3 linked regions of the Homo sapiens genome follow. The protein of the gene in region 2 purifies or fractionates together with the protein of the main gene of each other region. This does not show direct contact. Each region holds a gene or a part of one and is shown on either strand. Other genes may lie near its edges.

Region 1 (3,751 bases), on a different chromosome or scaffold from region 2:
TAGATATTTCAGATACAGACTGTGTCTGGTTTGGGAGGAAGGAAATATAAATTCTGTACCTCTCCAGGCCGAATCTTGATGAAAAAGCTACTACGTTTATAAGAAATCTTCAGCACTTTGGGCCAAGGGAAGCGGTTAATTCTCAGCTTATCTTTGTAAACCAGAAGGCCACTAGAGCAGACACCTAGGATGATATCTACTCCTTCCAAGTCCTGAAAAAGAAAAATGTTAGGATTTCAGTCTGGAGCAAAGTACTCAATACACTGTTGACTATTACTAGATAATCTGAAGATAACAACCAAAAACAGTTACAAAACATACAATGAAAAATAAAGCTCAGCCTAACAGTTATAATTTATGGACCTATTATGTTTAAATCAGCAGTCATGACTTCCTGGAGAGCAGGGCTTAGAGCTATGTATACTACCAAATATACACGCACAATTATTAATTCTTGTTTTTTTATGATAAAGTGTTAACAGCTCCAGAAATGATGTTAAATGTAGGAGTTGACTCTATTCCTATATAAACTCAGCATAAGACAATCTTAGGTTCTTAAAATTGATGTTAAGTATATTAAATTAAAAATATGATCCCTAAGTCAAGAAGTTACATTAAGGCACAATGAAATCATATTTATATGCCTCTTTATTAAAGACAACTTTAAAAAATTAAATATGTAATATTAATCATCTATGTCTATAATTCAAAGAAAATAAATTTCACCTAAGTTAGTCCCTACAGCTAACAGTTTGTTTAGCTAAGTAATCAAAACACAAAGTTAAATGCTTCTTGACTACTCTTTCCCCCAAAATGAGTATAGAGAAATATATTAGTGCCTACACGTGTTATAACAGAGAAGCAGGAATTACATACAGTTCCAATTCAGTGACTATGTAACTGAGAATTTCCCAGAAGATGCCCTCTTAAATTTTTAAAGCTTGTGGGTATAACTACATTTCACTTTGGAGAAACAATTTGCTTTACAATATTTGGGAAGGGAACATGCTGCCTGACTCCATCAATACCTGAATTGACACCAGCTTCCAGCAGGAATTGTGAAGCAAAATCTAACCATTTCAGTTTTAGAAACATACCTAATCTGATGTACTGATCTTCCTACAATATACTTTAGAGATTCATAGAAGTTGTAGTACCCAGCCCAAAATAATCCAGAACAACTTTTTTCTTTTTTTTTTTTTTTTTTAAGACAGAGTCTCAACTGTCACCCAGGCTGGAGTGCAGTGGTGCAATCTAGGCTCACTGCAGCCTCTACCTCCTGGGCTCAAGCAATCCTCCCACCTCAGCCTCCTGAGTAGCTGGGACCACCAAAGGCACGTGCCACCATGCCTGACTAATTTTTTGTATTTTCTATGGAGACGGGATTTCACCATGTTCCCCAGTCTGGTCTTGAATTCCTGAGCTTGAGCGATCGGCCGCCTCAGCCTCCCAAATTGTTGGGATTACAGGTGTGAGCCACCACGCCTGGCACTGGACCTCCCCAGCAACTTTAGTAGCTGAAGAAGAGAGAAGTAAGGAGACTTTCCTTAAGGATTCATTCTGTTAGGCTGTATTAGGTAGAACTAGGATTAAAGCTCAAGTTTCCAGGGCCCTACCCAAGTGGTTTTTGAATGAGCCACTGTGGTTCATTCAGTGTGCATCAGAACAACCTGGAGAACTTAAAATGGATTGCTGAGCTCCACCTCCAGAGAGTCTAACTCAGCAGGCCTGGGATGGGGCCTGAAATGTGCATTTCTAACAAGTTCCTAGGTGATGTTAAATGTTGCTGGCTCAGACACCATACTTTGAGAACCACTACTCTAGGCCAGTGGTTCTCAGATTCAGGCATGAATTAGAATCATTTGGGTGCTCATTAAACCAAGACATTCTAGAACCTCGCCTCCAAATTAATTCCATACATCTGAGAGAAGCTCAGGGATCTACATATTTAATGAACATCCTCAGTGATTCGATGTAGGTGATGCTGGCTGTGAAACAGGACTTGCTGCCCACTGCTCTATATTTTCAAATGTTACTGCATGTTAGGAAAATCAATTTCTTTTTCTCTAGGGGCTATCTTTTGATCTTAACAGTAGCTTGGATATGAAACTTTATTCTGAGGGTGGAATTGCTATGGGGCAAATTCAATTGATACAGTTGACTGATTTAACTGATACACTTAAAATGCTAACAAGAGGCCGGGCACGGTGGCTCACGCCTGTAATCCCAGCACTTTGGGAGGCCGAGGCGGGCGGATCACGAGGTCAGGAGATCGAGACCACGGTGAAACCCCGTCTCTACTAAAAATACAAAAATTAGCCAGGCGTGGTAGCTGGCGCCTGTAGTCCCAGCTACTCAGGAGGCTGAGGCAGGAGAATGGCGTGAACCTGGGAGGCGGAGCTTGCAGTGAGCCGAGATCATGCCACTGCACTCCAGCCTGGGAGACAGAGCAAGGCTCCATCTCAAAAAAACAAAACAAAACAAAAAAAAGCTAACAAGAAGTACTATTTCTCTCTCTTTTTTTTTTTTGAGACGGGGTCTTGCTCTGTCGCCAGGGCTGGAGTGCAGTGGCACAATCAGGGCTCACTGTACGCTCGATCTCCTGGACTCAAGTGATCCTCCCGCCTCAGCCTCCCCAGTAGCTGGGACTACAGGCATGAGCTGCTGTGCCCAGTCTACTATCTCTTTTGAATGTTTTAAAATACCCCAGATGTTGTTAAAAAGTATTATATGACACAGATGTGATACATACATAACAGACATGTATCATATAATATCTTCCACATGCATATTAATAAAGGGCAAAGTTATCATTACCTTTGCTTTATGAAGATCAACTCCATACATAGACAACTTTTTGGCATTCTCAAGAAACTCCAAGTCAGCCTGAGCTGGAGTCATGGACCTTTGATAGAATAAAAACATAAAATTCTTTCAGTGTTATAGTGTCATCATTTACAGTAACATTTATATATTCACTGTATTTTAAACACATGAACATATACATACCACTATATTAAGATATATTTCCTAGTCCTGAAAGTAGGTTATTATGGAACAGAACCCATCACTGCCTGTATCTAAATAATTAAAATATACCTTAGAAAAAGACAATGTGAGCAAACAAAAAGTCACCAAAAAGCTGCAAAAAAAATTTTTTTAATCCTACTAAACAATTTCCTTAAAGCTATTTCATCTATCATTAGTTCTGCCCCCTTCTCTTCACTCTTTTTCTCCGACATACATAAGCTCCTCCCGCTAATTTTTCTTGCCAAGGAGATGACCAAATTAAATCCTCAGAGGGCATGGTGTAATTTACAATATCCTCTTATAGCTGCCTTTTTCTCTCCATACCCCTGAATTGAGTTATGGAAATTAAACAAGAGGGCAGCTGATGTTACTTAACTGAGGACTCTTAATCGGGGCAGGCTTGATGAAAAGAAAATTTCTGGTAACAGATGGTGTCCTGCCCACTGATATAAACAAAATAAACTGGTTCACGGAAGCACATAGATAATGGGGCTGTTTTCTCTGTTATTAATATGTCTTCATTACCAGGCATATAATGAATTAGATTTGTTTGAAAACAGTCAGTCTCACTGTCTAAACACTCGCTGTGACAGTCTTTTCTTCTCCTCTATAAATTTCCCGTCTTTTGAAAAGTGTTCATGAGCTGTTATATAGAGCTTTCAAAGACAAAAATATCACTCCTAATGCTGCACAATTCAGACCAATCAAGTATAACTTAACA
Region 2 (3,751 bases):
TTACTCTGTCCCTCAGGCTAGAGTGTAGTGGCGGGATCTTGGCTCACTGCAAACTCTGCCTCCCAGGTCCAAGTGTTCTTCCCACCTCAGCCTCCTGAGTAGCTGGGACCATAGATGCAAGCCACCACATCTGGCTAATTTTTGTATTTTTTTATAAAGATGAGGTTTCGCTATGTTGCCCAGGCTGGTCTCAAATTCCTGAGCTCCAGCAATCTGCCTGCCTCCCAAAGTATTGTGATCACAGGCATGAGCCACTGAGCCTGGCCTTTTTCATTTATTTATTTAATTTTTACAGACAGGGTCTCACTCTGTTGCCCAGGCTGAAGTGCACTGCATGATCATAGCTCACTGCAGTTTCAAACTGCTGGGCCCAAGGGATCCTCCTGCCTCAGCCTCCTGAGTATCTGAGACTACAGGCACACACCACCATACCTGGGTTTTTTTTTTTTTTAATGTTTTATTTTAGAGACAGGGGTCTTGCTATGTTGCCCAGGATGGTTTTGAACTCCTGGCCCCATTGATCCTCCTGCCTTGGCCTCCCAAAGCTCTGACATTACATGTGTGAGCCACCTTGCCCGGCCTTGAGTAATTTTATTTTACCGCAGTAGACATCTCCTTGAAGGCAAATGTTTCCCCCAATTCCTAGCACCATATTTGGCACACAATAGGAGCTTAATAAAATTTGCCATAAGAATTAATGCTCAGAAACTCTACTATTACATCCTATCTGCTCAACTCCCTGGAAAAGAGACATTCTCTTTTTATGGTTACTATAAAAGGCCCAGATTAGTATTTCACTGGCCTAACTTGGATCACATGCTCATCCCTGAACCAATCAATGAGGCTGAAGGGATGAAATATGCTAATTGGCCAGGTCTGGTCATGTGTCCATTTTTGGAGCCAGGGGAGTGGGGAGGGCTATTTTCCTGAACTGAAATAGGGTGAACTGGTTCCCTGAAGACTAACCAAGACGCTAATGCAAAGAAGGACACTCCTGCTGGGCAGACAAAAATGACAGAGGCTCAGAGAAGTAAAATAACTTGCCCAAGGGCCATAGAGCTTTAAGCAGTAGCGTCTTTTTTTTTTTTCCAATCTTGCTTTGGGCTTGGACAGACTAGTTCAGCATCTTTGATCTTCCCTTCCTGCCTGACGGCCCCAGGGTCAGAATTCCAGGTGCAATTTTGTCTTGCCAAAAGCTGGAGTTTACTCTCTTTGGGGTTTATAAATAAGGAAAAAAGTTCTTTGGAGAGCCTGAACTTTGAAATCAGAGAAGTCTGGATTTACTGCTGGCTCTGCCTTTTCTAGCTGCCTCACCTGGGGCATGTCATTATCTCTATAAGCCTCAGTTTTGTTCTTTTTTCTTTTTTATTTTTTTGTTTTTGTTTTTTTGCGACGGAGTCTCATTCCTTCACCCAGGCTGGAGTGTAGTGGCGCGATCTCGGCTCACTGCAACCTCTGCCTCCAGGGTTCAAGCGATTCTCGTGCCTCAGCCTCCAGAGTAGCTGGGACTACAGGCGCGCCCGGCTGCTTTTTTGTATTTTTACTAAAGACAGGGTTTTACCGTTTTGGCCAGGCTGGTCTCGAACTCCTGACCTCAGGTGATCTGCCGGCCTCGGCCTCCCAAAGTGCTGGGAAGATGGAATGAGAGAAATCCCTCAAAACATGTCATTGTTACTACTTTTCTATCTAGAATGTGTGAAATTTCTAAAATTTCACTAACAAAGTATCTGGAAGGACCTAATATTAAAGTGTTCACAGTAGCTATTAGTTTTAATTCGTTTTCTTTTTTATACCTTAGCCACTCTACCACTCATGCCACAGGTATTTATTAAGCATCTACTGTGTGCCACCCAGGCCCTGTGTCAAGAGTTAGGAATAACTAAAGGAGATACTAATTTTAAAACTACACAAATAATTGCAATCGTCATACGTGCCTGTTTTTACAAAGCAGAAATCAGGAAAAACAAAGTATTTCCGATAAAAAATATTTTAAGGTTATGGATAGAGATACATACAAACAAGCGATGGGCTTGGATCACTAATGATTTTGGAAAGGACAGGAATACAGGAACTAAGCGAGAAGCAGGCGAGAATGGCGAGGCGCGGCGGGAGAGGACGGAAGTTGGTCACTCCCTCGAATTGCCCCCTCGCTGCCGGATGCTAGGCCAGCCTTGAGCAGGAGAACCGGACACTGTGTACTCAGCAGGGGGAGCCAAGACTTAGCGCTAACCATTGCACCTGGGGCTGGGAGCCAGCGCCGGAGCCAGGAGGCCCGCTAGGCGGCTGCAGGCGCTGTGATGGCCACCTGGGGGCGGCCACGTGAGCGCCACGCCGTGCGCCCGCCAGGCCAGCCCCGCCCCTGCCCGCCCGCTTCTGCTCAACCTAGACCAGCCCCAGCTTCAGCCTCAGCTCCCCTCCTTCCTGGATCGAGCGCCCGCACTCCCGGCCCTGCAGCCACCCGAGTCCCGCTCGCTGTCGCCTGCACGCGAGTCCCCCCTGGCACGCGCTCCCACATCCCGGGATCGTCCCAACGGCCCCTGCGCCCTTCCTGGGATCACTCCGACTGCCCCGCGCGCCCTGGGATCGGTCCATCTACCCCGCGTGGCCCCAGCTGCTTGCCCGGAGCGCCAGCTAGCGCTCCCCGCTCTCCGCTCCCCGGCACTCTCGGGGGGCCCGCCCGCCCTGCACCCTGGAGCTCCGGGCCGCGAGCCTCTGCCAACTCCTCTGGACCCTCGCGGCCGTGGGCAGCGGCTGCCGCGCCTGTCTGCCCGAGGGAGGTAGGTGTGGACCGCGGCCGGCAAGGCTGTGGGGGGCTGGGAGCCCGCGCTGCAGGCCTGTGCGCCCGGGTGCAGCTGGCGTCTGGAGCGTGCTGGGTCTGGGCTTGGGAATGGGGCCGGAGAAGGCATGGAAGGAGAGTGTGGGGGCGCTTCTCCTCTGGTTGTTAAACTCTCTGGGGCTAAGTGCTTGCTTTGGAGAAATGGGGAAGTTGTGCGGATTAAAGGCGATGTGGATATGGAAAGCAATTGGCAAGCAATGGGCGGTGATCTGGCTGCAAGTGACAGAGAGTTTGGGGGCCTCCCCCCTCGGGGCCCCTAGAGTGTGGGCGCATCGCTGCCTTCCTGTCCCCTGCAGGGCTCAGAGCCGCATCCCCCACCTTTCCCCTGAACTAGAGGCCTGCGTCAGCCCGAATTCCCGGAACCTCCAGGACTGTATAGACGCGCCCTTGCTGCATTGTTGGCTGCGGGAGTTTGTTGGCAGGCGCTGCTGACATGTGTGCCAAGGGGCTGGGCATTAATAAGCCGGTGGCCGCGCGGGGGTGGGGGCCTCCCGGGTAAGCCCCGGCCTAGATCCTTTTGCGCGCGCCTGGGGGATTTCGGGGAACCAGCCCAGCTGCGCCCTGAGTGTGACAGATGGGCCGCATGGGGAAGTGAGATCTGCCCAGGGGGACGGTCCCAGGGAGCCCGACCTCTGGGACCTCGGTGGTGGGTGCTTCTTCAGCCAGGAAAGCAGGAAACACTAGGGCTGGAGTCCTGGGTTGGAATTCTAGCTCATTTATGCTCTCTGGCCCTCGGTTTTCTCATCGGTAAAATGGGTACAGTATTAGTATCTACCACTTAGTATCCTTGGAAAGAGTAGATGAGTATGTATATGTCAGGTGCTTGGAACAGTGCCTGGCACACAGTGTCATAGTCTATGGCCCCGGGAGACATCTGATGGCCAAGAGCCCTGTGGTTGAGGGCCCTGGACAGGC
Region 3 (3,751 bases), on a different chromosome or scaffold from region 2:
AAGATCTCAAGGCCGAAGAGGCTAAAGCACCTTGGGCATGGGGCAGTGTGGCAAGGGATAGGTGGGAGAGGTAGGTGGCCATGGAAGGAGTTTGAAGTTTAGCTCAAGAGCTAAAGAGAGTTCCTGAAAGGTGTAAGCAAGGGTGTGGATGGGAAGGGGGAGTGGGCTTGCCATGATCTGATTTAAGGGACTTTTTAAGATCTCTCCAGCAGCTATGAGGAAAATGACCTGGAGAGCACCAGAGGCGAGGGAGAAGGCCCTCATAGGCACAGGCAAAAGATGGGGGATGCTGGAGGCGGGTGTGATGGAGAGGAAGAGAAGCAAATGGGTTCATGTTTATTCTACAGGTACAACCAAATGGGCTTTTTGATGGGTGAGATGTAGGTAATTGAAGGAAAAGAGGTGTAGACATATACATGTTTGCATTTGTGTGTGTTGTATGTATAGTCGAGTCTGTGTATCTTAAAATGTGTACAAACTTCCATACTTACAACACCTAAATACATGAACTTTACACAGACATGTATTCATTTATCTGTGTGACCTGAATGTATGTAGTTATATTTCTTCTTTTTTTTTTCTCCCTTTTTTTTTTTTTTGAGACAGAGTCTTGCTCTGTTGCCCAGGCTGGAGTGCAGTGCCAGCTAATTTTGTATTTTTAGTAGAGACGGGGTTTCACCATGTTGGCCAGGCTGGTCTCACACTCCTGACCTCATGTGATCCACCTTCCTCGGCCTTCTAAAGTGCTGGAATTACAGGCATGAGCCACTGCACCTGGCCATATGTGGTTATACTTTTATTTAGACTCCTCTCTCTCTCTCTCTCTCTCTCTCTCTGTGTGTGTGTGTGTGTGTGTGTGTGTGTGTGTGTGTGTGTGTGTGTGTGTGTGTGTGTGTTGGCAGTCCAGGCCCAGCTGCCAGGGTCCACTCCATTCTAGTTGATTCCGGTGAGGAGGAGTGTTTCCCAAGGCAGACTCACCTCCCCAGGCCGGATCTTGATATAGAAGTTACTCCTCTTGTAGGAGATCTTGAGGATCTTGGGCCAGGCAAAGCGGTTGATTCTCAGCCGGTCCCGGTAGATGAGCAGGCCATTGGCACAAACGCCTAACATGATGTCGATGCCCTCAGAGTCCTGCATGAGAAGAGACCATGGAATGGGAGGCCCGGGGTCCATGCCTGGGGACAGCCTACCACCCACCCCGAAAACACTGCCCTGTGCGCTGCTTGTAACGAGCTCTCAGGAACAGGGTTAGAGCCTCCATGCTGGAGTCCCACTGACCAATCCCTCCCATAGTCATTCAGTCATTCACTCATCCATTTAGGTATTTTTTTCACCCACTCACTTGTTTGATCATTTGCTCTGTCAATCACTCAATCGTTCATTCATCCAGCAAATATTTAGTGGCACACACTTGGTGCCAGGCTATGTGCCAGGTGCTAGGGATATAGAAATAAACTAAGGCCTACGTCTTTCCCTCACAATGCTCCCAATCTAGCAGTGGCTCAAACAGGTTCATAAATAAAATACATGGAGAAAATAATACAGATCATGAGAAAATAAAAGGTTATGGAACTTCGAGAAATGAGAATGAGAACAGAAAAGGTTTCAAGTTGGAGGTAACACAGGGTCTGGCACACCACGCCCTAGGGAAAGGCCTGATAGTTCTTTGGGGGCACCACCCAGACACTAGGGGAACCCAGGAAGCTGGTGGTACCTTGGCATGGTGCAGGTCTACTCCGTACATGGAAAGCTTCTTGGCATTCTCTAAGAAGTGGATTTCTGCTTCTCCCGGGGTCATCCCCCTGAGGGAAAGAAAGTGATCACAGGTGACCAAGGGAAAGGCCCAGGTTTAGTCCTGCTGTCCAAAGGTGCCCACCATCAGAACCCATGATTCTAGAAAGTCAAATATGCTGAGCCTCACCCTAATCTTTTCCCTCTGCCCTCAGAGCAGGAGGGTGTACCCCAACTCCCACTTCAGCCCACCCAACCCCCAACTTCTGCCAAAGCTCAAGTCCAGTCTTGTTAGTCCAGGGATCATACAAAGGCTGAGCTGGGAGTCAGGATTTTTGCCTCATTCTGCCACTGAGTTGACTGTGAGCTATAAATTCTACTTTTCCATGACTGTAAAACCATTGTTACGGACATTGTTCATTATCATCACCCAGGGGCTCCTAAATTATTACCCACACAGGATATTTCTTGCAGAATTTAGTATCAGAAGCCACTTAATCTCTCCTAAGGAACAGGTGCACATTCTCCTTTCCAAAAAGAAGAGTTATGTAATTAATCAAGTTCCTTCTTTGCTTTGGCTGCCAGGAAACTTGGACTACATTTTATACTTAGTCACAGCAAACATTTATTGAGTACTATGTGCTGGTTACTGTTCTAAGCACTTTACACATATTAACTCACTGAATCCTCATAACAACTCTGTAAGATAGGTATTATTATTATTGTCATTTTACAGATGAAAAAACCGGCACAGAGACATTGAGTAACTTGTCCAAGGTCACACTGCTATGAAGAAGAGTCAGAATTTGAATCTAGACAATGTGACTTCAGAGTTTATGCTCCTAATCACTTCATTACAGGTCTTGTGTATCCTCCAGGCCTCAGTTTCCTGTGACCTGTCTACCTCTGGGCTGCTGTGTGGGATACTTGGACACGAGATGTCAGTGTGCTTTAGGTCCAAAGAGCTTTAGGGACAGCCCTTAGTATTTCTCCAGCCCATATTGATCTGAACATCTTTCTCTGAATTATTATGACTCTTGCAAATCCTAAGATGTCTTGCTATCTAGGACAGGGATGACAAATAGATGGCAGGCAGGCCACTACTCCCTATTCCTATGCCCAGGTGGATATTGCTAACCTGGGCATTGTAGGGAATCAGTGTCCTACTCAACACAACACCACAGCAGTCGCTATTAACCAAGTGGAGTTAGTGTGCGACTCTCAGAGACAGCATTTGCCACCCTTGACCTAGCATTCATCACACCCCAGCAGGCTCTTCCCCACGTACACGATCCCTCCACATCTGACTCTAGCCCTCCTCTCCAGATAACGCCCACAGAACCAAGGCCTCCTAATTCCCTCCATCCTCAATAGTAATGAGACAATATCACCATACTCCTTTCCCTGGGTGCCGCACTTTACAGTTTATAATGCACCTTCACATTATTAATTATATTGAGTCCCCATAACAATCCTGGACTTACAGCCCCAAATACTTCCAGCTTAAAAGGACCCTACAAATCATTTAGTTCCAAGGGCTCCTCTCCAGGGGAACCTGTACAGAAGCAATGGCAAAGGGGAGTATCTGGGTTGTTACAAGGACTGAGAAGGTGTTATGGGCATTTACTGGGTCCCAGGGATGCTGAACATTCTGCACAATGAATTCTCCTGCCCCAAATGCCAATAGTTGAGAGACACTGATAATCTAACTTTGTGCATATACAGGTGAAAAATGGGGCTTAGATAGGTTAAATAACCAGCCTACAATCACACTAGTTAATTATCGTCCAACTGCTGGAACGAGGTACTTTCCCCTGCATGATCAACTGTTCAACCCCTCGATCCACAGACAGCAACACTAACAGCCAACATGCAGTGTGCCTTTAATATGTGCTATTTAGGCTTCCCAACAATCCTACAGGGTGGGTTTAACAGCATCCACCTTGAACAGATGAGGAAACCAAAGCATAGGAAGTGAAATGACCTTCCTGAGATCCTCTAGTTAGAAAGTGGCAGAGCC

Evidence for each region.
Region 1: the proteins of EEF2K (region 2) and EPB41 purify together in Homo sapiens (affinity purification with mass spectrometry; 2 studies listed by BioGRID and IntAct, with this or other methods). This does not show direct contact.
Region 3: the proteins of EEF2K (region 2) and EPB41L1 purify together in Homo sapiens (affinity purification with mass spectrometry; 2 studies listed by BioGRID and IntAct, with this or other methods). This does not show direct contact.

The regions. Positions count from the first base shown.
Region 1 is NC_000001.11:29,029,554-29,033,304, reverse strand, and holds part of EPB41 (protein 4.1), read right to left. Parts: intron 2,906-3,751; coding exon 2,818-2,905; intron 213-2,817; coding exon 60-212; intron 1-59. UniProt on the Homo sapiens protein: Protein 4.1 is a major structural element of the erythrocyte membrane skeleton. It plays a key role in regulating membrane physical properties of mechanical stability and deformability by stabilizing spectrin-actin interaction. Recruits DLG1 to membranes.
Region 2 is NC_000016.10:22,203,903-22,207,653, forward strand, and holds the start of EEF2K (eukaryotic elongation factor 2 kinase), read left to right. Parts: upstream 1-2,375; 5' UTR 2,376-2,777; intron 2,778-3,751. UniProt on the Homo sapiens protein: Threonine kinase that regulates protein synthesis by controlling the rate of peptide chain elongation.
Region 3 is NC_000020.11:36,185,727-36,189,477, reverse strand, and holds part of EPB41L1 (band 4.1-like protein 1), read right to left. Parts: intron 1,803-3,751; coding exon 1,715-1,802; intron 1,132-1,714; coding exon 979-1,131; intron 1-978. UniProt on the Homo sapiens protein: May function to confer stability and plasticity to neuronal membrane via multiple interactions, including the spectrin-actin-based cytoskeleton, integral membrane channels and membrane-associated guanylate kinases.